Regions from separate parts of the Homo sapiens genome. Here region 1 is linked to region 2. Evidence: fine-mapped QTL for protein levels in blood plasma. Region 2 holds a variant in brackets. A gene starts in the other region. All regions are shown on their reverse strands.

Region 1 (5,326 bases), not on the chromosome of region 2:
TGCCTTCCCAGGATGTGGAGCTGGTATACTCCTTCCCACTCTGGTGGAGACATCAGTGCCTTTCACCATGAGCTCCCATTTCCACTCCCATCAAGGCAGTTGCTTCTGCTCATAATTGGGGTTTCCCAGGGTGAGCTTGGTCGTTTAGTGCCCCTCAGTTTTGTGTCCCCCTCCAAAGCTTTGTGTTCCCTTCAGGGAATCAGGCCATCCACAGACCAGCCAACTGCCTGTGACAACAGAGATCCCCTCCCAGAAAACAAAGACCAAGTACCCATCAGCTTATGCCACAGCCAGCTTTTATTGGGATGCAGATTGAATTGCACAACCAAATAAAAAACAGGCTGACAGAGGGTATAGTGCTGGGGAATGAGATAAACTTTCAGAGACTTCCACATTCCCAGCCCCTCAGAAGGTAGTATTCCTGCTCATATGCCCAATACATTGCTACTACAATCAGCATAATAAAGCCACCACACAAAAGCTATCTATACAGCATAATAAAGCCACCACACAAAAGCTATCTATGACCAAGGAACTCATACAGAGCTGTGACCCACGGAAGGCACCCAAAATTGAAGCCAAATGATCACACACAACATACAGTCACACCTTCAAAGGGGGAAAAAATCCCATTCAAATGAGAGTAAGTTCAAAAGTAAGAAGTAACGGGTTCTCTAGATGAGAAGAAATCAGCATAAGCACTCTGGAAGTACGAAAAACCAGTATTTTGACATGCCCAAAGGATCACACCAGCTCCCTAGCAATGGATCCTAACCAATATAAAAATTTTGAAATAACAAATAAAGAATTTAAGATATGAGTTGTAAGGAAGCTCAATGAGATACAAGAGAAAGTTGAAAACTAACATAAGGAAATCAGAAAAATAATTCAGGATATTAATGAAAAATTTACAAAAGAGATAGAGATTAAAAAACAAAAACCAAATAGAACTTCTAGAAATAAAAATTTATTGAAGGAACTATAAAATATAGTTGAAACTTTTAGCAAAAGACTAGACCAAGCAGAAGAAATAATTTCAGAGCCTGAAGGCCAGTCATTTGAATTAACCTAGTCAGACAGAAATACAGAAAAAATAAATTTTTAAAAATGAACAAAGACTTTGAAAAATATAGAATTACATAAAGTTACCAAATATACAATATATAGACATTCCTGAGGGAGAAGAAAAAAAATTAAAAGCTTGGAAAACCTATTTGAGGGAATAATTCAGGAAAACTTCCCTGGTCTTGCTAGAGAATTAGACATCCAGATAGGAGATGCTCAGAGAACACCTGGAAGATGCTTTACAAGAGAAACCTCATAAAGGCATATCGTCATCAGACTATCCAAAGTCAATGTGAAGGAAAACATCCTAAAAGCAGCAAGAGAGAAATGTCTAATCTATACAGGAAAACCCAACAGACTAACAATGGACTTCTTAGCAGAAACCTTACAAGCCAGAAGAGATTGGGGTCTTATGTTTAATCTACTTAAACAAAAATCCTGCCAGCCAAGAATTTTGTATCCTGCTAAACTAAGCTGCATAAATGAAGGAGAAATAAAGTTTTTCCCATACAACAAATGCAAAGGGAATTTGTCACCACAAGACCAGCACTACAAGAAATGCTTAAAGTTCTAAACATGGAAATGAATGGACAATACTCCTCATCATAAAAGCACATTAAAGTGAAAAACTCACAGATTATATAAAGCAATTACATAATTGAGACTAAAAAGCAACTGGGTAACAATTATCATGACAGGAACAAAACATCACATATCAATATTAACCTTGATAATAAATGGAGTAAATGTTCCACTTAAAAGATACAGATTGGTGCTGGGTATGATGGCTTACACTTGTAATCTCAGAACTTCGGTAGGCTGAGGCAGGAGAATTGCTTGAGACCAGGAGTTTGAGACCAGCGTGGGCAACAGAGTGAGACCCCATCTCTGTAAAAAATTAAAAAGAGAAATTAGCCAGGTGTGATCATGCTCACCTGTAAAGAGGCTGAGGCAGGACAATCACTTGAGCCCAGGAGTTTGAGGCTGCAGTGAGCTATAAATGCATTATGGCACTCTAGCCTGGGTGACAGAGTGAGACTGTCTCAAAAAAAAAAAAAATACATACAGACTAAAAGATTGGATAAAAGTAGCATCAGCTCAGGGGTCCTAACTAGTTACAAGAACAGTGCACAAGACAAACACCAGCTAAGATGGCAGGGAGAACAAGCCTGAACAAGGCAAGGCAGAGGTCTGCTAAGGGAAATCCATCCCACAAAAGACAAGCAAGGCAGGGGCTCTCTGAGGCCTAGAGCAGCATGCAAAAGAGCAACTCTTTCCAGGTGGCAGCTCCCTAGCTGCTGCCCCCACATGCTGCTGCCTCTGCAGCCACTCTACCTGCCCCACCCCTGCCCAGGTATTCCAAGCAGCTCTCAGCTCTTTCCCAATATCTGGGCAGTGCTGTTGAGACAAAGGAAGAGGAGAAGTGGACACAGCAGGTCTTGGCTCTTAAGATCTGCAGTTGTGAGTTCCTTTTGCAATCGCTGTAGGTCATTGTGCAACCTGCTGGTCTCTGGACTCCTGATTTCTAGACATCTATAAAATACAGACACTGATGATGCCACTTAATTCACAGAGCTGCAGTGAGAAAGGTGCAGATGAGTTCAAGGCCTGATAGTGTTCTGCAAACTATAGTGATGGATGTGCATAGTATTGTGAATATCAGTGGCAGGTTTCCAGAACGCAGGTGGGGATAAGAGTGAGTGAGTCAATAAAGAAGAAAATTGCCCCACTTCTTGAAGGGAGTTTTTGGGGCTGGGCAGCTCAGGGTACAGGGCAGGCATAAATAGTGAGTGCCTGCCAAGCAAAGGCTAGTTTGCTTGGAGCTCCTGGGGCCTAACAAAAAGAAACCTGTAAGTGTCTCTGTTCTTGCCTTCTTTTTATTTTCTCCACATCCTATAAATATCCCTCTGCCGACCTGGGCAATTCAACCTATTGGTGTGGAGGGTCTGTGTAGCTGTTCTGGTCTAGGAGGCATGGGCGCAGGAGGTGGGGAGCACAGGAGGTCTTATGGTGCTCTTCTGCCCCTTATTCAGTGGCCTCAGCCCAGGGGAGGATTTGCTTTCTGAGCTGGGGGTGCACAGGGTGGAAGAGTGGGTGTGACACTATCTAGACCTGGGATGCCACAGTGTGGAAGCTTCAGGTGGAAAAATGCAATGCTAATTTATCTCTAGGCTCTTTTCTGCACTGATTTCTTCAGAAAGGACAGTGGAAGAGAGACAAACCCAGGCACTCACAGGCTGGGGTTCTAAACCCATCCTGGTGCCAACAGCCTGTGGAAAAGCAGGGCAAGCCTGTTTTTCTCATAGCTTCAGGTCTTTACTTTAAAAAATATACTTACTGGAGTAGGTCTCTGATTTTCCAATCCATGTTCAGAGGAGATGGCCTTTTCAATGAAATTGTACTCTGAAAGCTTAGCATAAACTGGGCACTGCAGGGGTTGAGGGGGACCACAACTCTGCCCACTCCATCTGCTGCCCCAGCTAAGATGCCTCATCTGAATCCTGGGCCTGAAAACCCGGGTCTGCCCTCTCCAAGTGTCCTTCAAGCCACAGTGGCTGCTGGTGCCTTCTGTGCCATCTTGAGCCTGTAGACAGAATGCCTATTGCCTTTCATTCTTCCCCAGAATCAGACACAGGGCCTGAGGGGTGAGGGAGCTGCGGGGCACAGAACAATGCCCTTGCTCTGGCCTGGGTCTGGCCCTTGCTGCTCATGATTGAGCCTCTGCCAGAACAGGTGTAACAAGGTAGCCGCTGCTGGCAGTGAGCTCACCCAGGTGTTTCTAGAGACTACCAGGATACCCAAGGAAGTGGTGATTTCAAAATTGAAAGAGGCTAGTGAGAAATAGGGGTCATCCACAGCCCAGAATCACCAGCAGTCAAAGAAGAAGGCACTCCTCTGGGCAGGAAGCCCCCCACTTGCCACCACCCCAGTTGGCCTGGTGACCCCTTTCTTTGCACAAGTCCCTCTGGCTTTGTTCCTAGCCTCTGCGAATCTGATCAGCTCTTTTCACTCTCATAACTTTACGGTTTCTCATTGAGAGAAAAGATACCCAAAACAGTTAATGTCCCAGGTCCTGCTCTTATCCTGGTCTCAGTTCCTGACCATCTTAGATAGTAAATGGGTGCCCTGTTGGGTAGTTGCTCTTGCTTACCCACAACACTAGCTTTCTGCCTGACTGAGCCTACCTGGCATGTCCTCTTTCCATATAAGACTTCTTTTTTTTTCTGAGATGGAGTCTCACTCTCTTGCCCAGGCTGGAGTGCAGTGGCACGATCTCGGCTCACTGCACCCTCCACCTCCCGGGTTCAAGAGATTCTCCTGCCTCAGCCTCCCGAGTAGCTGGGATTACAGCACGCACCACCACATCTGGCTAATTTTTTATACTTTTAGTAGAGATGGGGTTTTGCCATGTTGGCCAGGCTGGTCTCGAACTCCTGACTTCAAGTGATCTGCCCGCCTCGGCCTCCCAAAGTGCTGGGGTTACAGGCATGAGCGACCGTGCCCAGACTCCACATACTTCTTTTCCAAACCCTCTCAGGTCTTAGAAGAACTCTAGGTGTCTCAGGATTTCTCCTACTGCTAGTTTAGTGTCTCTGAAAACTTTCACCTGGGTTCCCTCTGGGACTTTTCTCTAGAGACAGCACCTGCTCGAGGAATGGCAAATTGCCAGGCAAATGTGCACCACACTCCCAGCCTGCGCTCAGGAAGGACATTACTAAGCACTCAGGACTCTGGCTGCATTTTCAGACCAGCACTATCAGCACCAGTGCTAGTCCATGCAAGGCAGCAAGAGAGAAGAAACAGGCTTGCCTTGTCTGAGCTAAGCCAGTTGCCTCAGTGGTACAGACAGGGAGATGGTCTAGGGAGTGGGCGGGGGGTGTCCTGCCCAGAGGCACTCAATGAACCCTTCTTGATGTGACAGATGGCCCCAGTGAGGAATGCTACATCCTAGCCACTGTGCCAAACTTAGTGCCCAAGGGAAGGCACAAGAAGGGAAGACATGAGCACCTGGGAATGGGGGATGCTGCTGTCAACCTATGTCAGAGTTCCAGCTGGGTAACTCATGCTCTCCATCCAGACCTTGTGCCCTCCTTGTCCTTAAACTGCTTTTGGATTCCTGCTGCTCTAGGCCCCATAGCAGAGGACAGAAGGAGGGAATGGGGGCTTCTTGTCACCTCTAGAAGCTGAGCCAAGCCCTAAACCATGTCCATGAAGCATAAGCATGTCTTTTCTCTTTCTGTTCACCTCTCCAGGCCATGCT
Region 2 (5,367 bases):
CCAGCCCAGCTGACCAGAGCCCCTTGAAGACCGTGGGAGGTCTCTGGGCTGATCTGTTTCAAGGTTCACATTCAAGGGGAAACTGAGGCCCAGAGTGTCTCCTGGCCATGCACATCGGGAGTCAGCTGCGCTTGTCCAATGCCAGCCCTGATCCAGCCAGGCCAGAGGCTCCGGCCCTGAGTCCCATTTGGCCTCCACCTCACTCTGGGGCCTCCTCATTAACCCTGGCAGGGTTGAGGAAGCAGCTGCTCCGGGGGGTCCTGGACCTGCCCGGGGTCCTCCGCCTGCCCCAGGTGGGAGCCGCAGAAGCCTAGCACCTCCGGCTGGTGTCGGGTGGGCTTCCTGGGGGCTATGTGGTAAACCTCCTTGACGAGCGTCATCTACAGGACAGACAGCGTCATCTGCAGGACACTCCGTCCGCGCTGCAATACCTCTTGCAAACACCTCCTGCCCGTGTGACCTGCACCTCAGATGCTCCCACCTCCTGGCTCCCTGGTCACCAGCGTCCTGAATGCTCCGTGGCGCAGACGCCAGGCAGGAAGCACCAGGTCGGGTGGTGTGGCCTCGTCCGGCCCCATGGGGACCCTAGGGTGGTGTCCAGGTCTGTTGTTTTATTTACGTCACAGTCCCCGTCACGGGCCCTGCACCAGCTCCCCCGCGTTTGTCTTTCTGAAGTTAAATTCTTAGAGGTGGGATTTCTGGGACAAGACGAAAGCCCATCTTCAAAGCTTCTGACCTGTCTCACGCTCAATAGGATGGCGGGGATCAAGAAACACAGGAAGTAGGAAGTGTTGGCAGAGACGTGGGGACCCGGAGCCCTGTGCCCTGCTGGTGGGGGTGACCAGCAACTCCACTCTGGGTCTGTCCCCAGAAGAACTGAAGGCGGGTCCTGAGGGACATTTGCACACCCATGTCCACAGCAGCATCACTGACAAAGGGCAGAAGCTGCCCATGTGTCCCTGGGCGGAGGACTGGGTCAGCATCGTGAGGCTGATCCGTGCGGTGGAATACGGTTCAGCCGTGAAAAGGAGAGGCTGGCCCAGGCTGCTCCATGGGGGAAGCTGGGGACACTGTGCAGAGTGAGGCAGGTGGACACAGAGGACAAAGGCAGGAGGGGCCACTCGTGTGCTGCCCCTGGAGTCATGAAACCCGCAGAGACGGAGTGTGGACGGTGGGCGCCAGGGGCTGGCAGAGGGGATGGTGAGCTGGTGTTGCATGGGGACAGGGTTTCAGCTTGGGAATGTGAGAACGTTCTGGAGATGGAGGGCGGAGACAGCTGCACAGCGACGTGAACGGAGCTGGCCCGTTTTGCCACCTGTCACCCCTCATGGCTGAGGCCCCCAGGTGGCTCCTCAGAGCGCGAGGGCTGTGGTGGAGGCTGGAACCCGCCTTCTCCCTTTGTTCTTTGTGACGGTTTCTTTAACTCAGGGCACACCTCGGGCTTCTGCCTGGCCCTGTACCTGGGTGGGGGCAGGGGGTCTCCCAGATCTCAGCGTAGCTCCCCGCTCACTTCCGGGACTCCAGAGCCTGTGCTCCCCCCACCCACCCCACCGACGTCACTTCCAAAGCTGAAGGTTCCGAGGTCTCTGGGGTCTCCAAGCTCTCTTTCACATCCAGGCCGGTAGACCCGCTGCAGCACGGCACGGTGGGAGGGGTGGGCGGGGATGCCTGGGCCAGTGGGCCTTGAGGATGGTCTGGAGGGTGGGCCAGAGTCCCCACCCCTGGGCTCGTGGCTGTGACTGCACCCAGGCCCCAGCCAGACCCCTCTCCCCGGCCTTCCTGCCTGCTCCAGGCCAGGCTGGGCAAATGGGGGGCTACCGGCCGCTGTGGCGCCTCGTTCCTCGCACTGGCAGGAGGGGTGTGCCTGCTGCCCGGGCCTCTGCTGCAGACGTCCCCCCGACGCACCCGCCCAGGTCTCCCACCTTAGCCAAGCCCTCGTGACATCCCCCCTCCCTGCCCGCGGCTCCAGCTCACAAGCCGATGCCCACCTGGGTGCTGGGGCCAAGCCTAGTGTCTCCCCTGCTGGCCCCCACTGCCTGTCCCCTGCCCTCCCTGACCACGGCCGGTGCCCGCGGCCTTCATGGGGGCTGGCGGCCCACTGGGGAGCAGCCCCCTCACCCCCAGCTCGAGTGGGCCGGGCACCTCTGCATCAGCGAGATAGCGTTTTCTCCATGGCAGAGCTGGGACCCTCAGGCAGCTCCTCTGTCCCCGCTCAGTGCCTGTGGTCCAACCCTCCCCGCCTCCACCCTGGAACAGCCTCGCCCGCCAGTGGCCGCTGGCACACAGTGACACCAAACAAGTGGGGGCCCCGACTTTGCCCTCGTCCCTCCCACTAGGCACCTCCCCGGGCAGAGGGCCCATTGGGAACTGGGCTGGGTCCGGGGCAGGGGTCCGAGGTGGACGTCAAGGCCACAGCTATTGAGACATCCCGGATGCGGCCCTGGGAGTCGGGCCTGTTTGCTCAGCGTGTTTGAAGAGTTCACCTCTTCACAGTTGAAGG[C/A]GCTGAAAACAGAAGATAAAGGAAGGAAAGGGACACAGCCGGTTCCTGCCGGGAAGGGGGGCCAGGCACAGCCTCCTGGAGCGCAGAGGAGCCTCCCACCTCGGACGTGCCAGGAACTTGCCCTGCGGCTCTGACGGAGTCTGAGCCAGGCCCAGCCCTGGGTGGGTCACTGTCCCTCATTCTGGCCAGGGGGCAGTGGAGACAAAGGGGCGGCCTAGACCACACAGAACCCGAGGGGGGTTAATCCTGCCATGAATGGGGACCCGTCCAGGACCCCACAGACCCCTTCAGAGGCCGTCCAGGCACCAGTGATCAGGGCCACCATCTGCTGTCACCAGCTGCCCCAAGCCCAGCCCCTCAGCCCTGGGGGACACCTGGAGGGCTTGGCCACCGCAAAGAGTCGTCACTGGGGCTGGGGTCCCCACGTGGCTCAGCCCTCCCCTCCCCCGACCACAGCGGTGCAGGTTTGAGCCAGGCCCCAGTGTCCATCAGCCACCAGGCACTGAGCCGGGCCCCAGGGTCCATCAGCTCCCAGGCACTGAGCTGGGCCCCAGCTCCACGCTGGACACCTGGGGTGTCAGGCACAGCCCAGGGGGTCACAAAGCAGGGATGGGCTCTTGGTCTGCTCAGAGCCAGGCCCCAGGATGTGTACTCAGAGCCAGGCCCCAGGCTGTGCTGGGGATAGGGAGTGGTAGCTGTGTGGGACCCTCCACCTCGGCAGCCTCCTGCTCCCTGGCACGGGGGCCCCCCAACTCCTGGGGTGGAGGCCTTACCAGGCCAGACGCACGCTCCTGGGGGCTCACCTGCTGATGGGCCGAGGGTCCCATCGTGTGACCAAGCGGGACAGGTCCAGGGCTGGGTGGGCCCAGCAGGAAGGTGTTCCAGGCCTCGGGGACCTGGGCAGGTGACGGGCTGCTTGCTCCTGGGTGTTGGGATGGCCAGGCCCCTGTCCCCTGGCCCAGTACACCTGGGGAGATGTCCAGCAAGGCCCGGGGGTCTCAGAGCCAGTGCCTGGTGTTCAGAAGTAGCAGGTGGGGGCATGTTGAGTCTTCACAGCCCTTAGACCCTGGCCCACTGAGCGACAGGCACAACCAGGGGTACCGAATCACCCGGCAGGAAGTGAAGCTGCAGGATGGCAGGTCACCTTCCACCTGGGCGTCCCGGTGCCCTGGGCTGCCCCTGCTCTGAGGATGCCCTGCACAGGGGCTGCAAGACAAGGAGAACCCCCCGGGGCGGCCCCTGCCCTGTGTGAAGGTCTCAGCCCCCGCCACGACCTGTCTCTGGTTTCTCCTGGTCTTTGCACAGACCCCCTTCTCTGCCTGTCTCCCCACCCGATTCCTTCCTGCCAGTTCCAAGGAGCCCCAACTGGGTCCTGGTGCTGCCATGGGCAGTGGGATTTGACAAAGACTAGAACAGAATCCCCCCTACTTCGAGGCTTCCAGTAGCATGGACTTTGCAGCAGCAGCACCAGCTTCCAAGGAACAAAAGAGGATGGTCCTCTGGGTGGGGTGGGAGGATGACGGTTGAGCTGTAAACCAGGGAACAGCAGGTGCAGAGACGCCGAGGCGGGGATGAACTCGGCGACCTGGAGGGTCCAAATGCACCTGGTGTGGCTGGGGCTGGGGCACAGGGGGCTGAGGGGAGCCAGAAGTGAGGGCAGGGTCAGGTGTGGGGAGGAGCCCGGGGGAGTGGGGCGAATTGATCCGATCATTTAAAGCAGGAAAACTATAGGGCATTTTTTCTAAAACAGTGGTGAAGTGTATGTGACATAACATTGATCATTTTAGTCTTGTTTGTTTGTTTGTTTGTTTTTGTAGAGACGAGGTCTCACTCTGTTGCCCAGGCTGTCATGAACTCCCAGCCTCAAGCGATCCTCCCACCTCAGCCTCCCAAAGTGCTGGGATGAGAGGAGTCAGCCACCACACCGCCCAATTTGCAATTTTTTTTTTTTTTTTTTTGAGATGGAGTCTTGTTCTGTCGCCAGGCTGGAGTGCAGTGGCTCGATCTCAGCTCACTGCAACCTCTGCTCCCTCAGTTCAAGCGAGTCTCCTGCCTCAGCCTCCCAAGTAGCTGGGACTACAGGTGTGCACCACCACGCCCAGCTAATTTTTGTATTTTTAGTAGAGACGGGGTTTCACCATGTTGGCCAGGATGGTCCCAATCTCTTGACCTCGTGATCCGCCTGCCTCAGCCTCCCAAAGTGCTGGGATGACAGGAGTGAGCCACCGCGCCACCCATTTTGCCATTTTTAAATTAATATAGGAGCATTAAGTCCACTTACACTGTTGTCCGACCATCCCCAGAGCTTTCCCATCGCCCTGCACTGAAACTCCGTCCCCATGAAACACCAGCTCCCACTCCCCTCCCCGAGCCCCACGCATCCACCAACCTCAACTCTCTCCGTAAGTTTGGTCCTCTAGAGGACCTCGTATAAATGGACTCATACAATACCCATTCTGATGTGACTGGCTTGTTTCACGGAGCACCATGTCCTCAAGTTTCGTCCGTGTTGTTGCCTATGTCTGGGTCTCCTTCCTTGTTTAAGGCAGAGTCATTTTCCACTGCGTGGATGGGCCCCGCTGGGTTCATCAATTCGCCCGTCGGTGGACCCTCGGGCTGCTTCTGCCTTTTGGTTTTGTGAATGAGGCTGCGATGGACATCGCAATGTGCCCAGGAATCTGAGTCCCTGTTTCCAGTTCCTCAGCTAGGAGTCCCTCTGGCTGGGAGCAGAATGGCTGGGTCACACGGTAAGTCTATGTTTGGCTTTCTGAGCAGCTGCTAGACTGCTCCACAGCGGCTGTGCCGTTTTATGCTCCCGCCAGCCATGCACGGCGGTTCCAATTTCTCTATATCTTCACCAACACTTG

Alleles and levels. Positions count from the first base shown, and alleles are read on the strand shown. Strength reflects both the effect of a copy and how common the allele is.
In carriers of allele A in region 2, the plasma level of the protein whose gene starts at base 2,876 in region 1 tends to be higher than with C alone (weak association).

Evidence for each region. PIP is the posterior inclusion probability: the model's chance that the variant is causal. The UK Biobank Pharma Proteomics Project read protein levels with antibody pairs (Olink). The fine-mapping took linkage between variants from a reference panel, not from the people measured, so its PIPs are less certain.
Region 1: SFTPD starts here. The variant in region 2 is fine-mapped to the plasma level of the SFTPD protein (UK Biobank, PIP above 0.99).

Annotation. Positions count from the first base shown.
Region 1 is chr10:79,946,655-79,951,980 of GRCh38, reverse strand. It overlaps SFTPD (surfactant protein D), which reads left to right and starts at 2,876. Exons shown (of 8, transcript NM_003019.5): 1 at 2,876-2,915; 2 at 5,319-5,326. The coding sequence starts at 5,322.
Region 2 is chr11:1,217,125-1,222,491 of GRCh38, reverse strand. No RefSeq gene overlaps it. Among named protein-coding and RNA genes, the nearest start is that of MUC5B, 3.3 kb to the left of the region's middle. The variant C/A (reference allele first, on the strand shown) is at 2,501.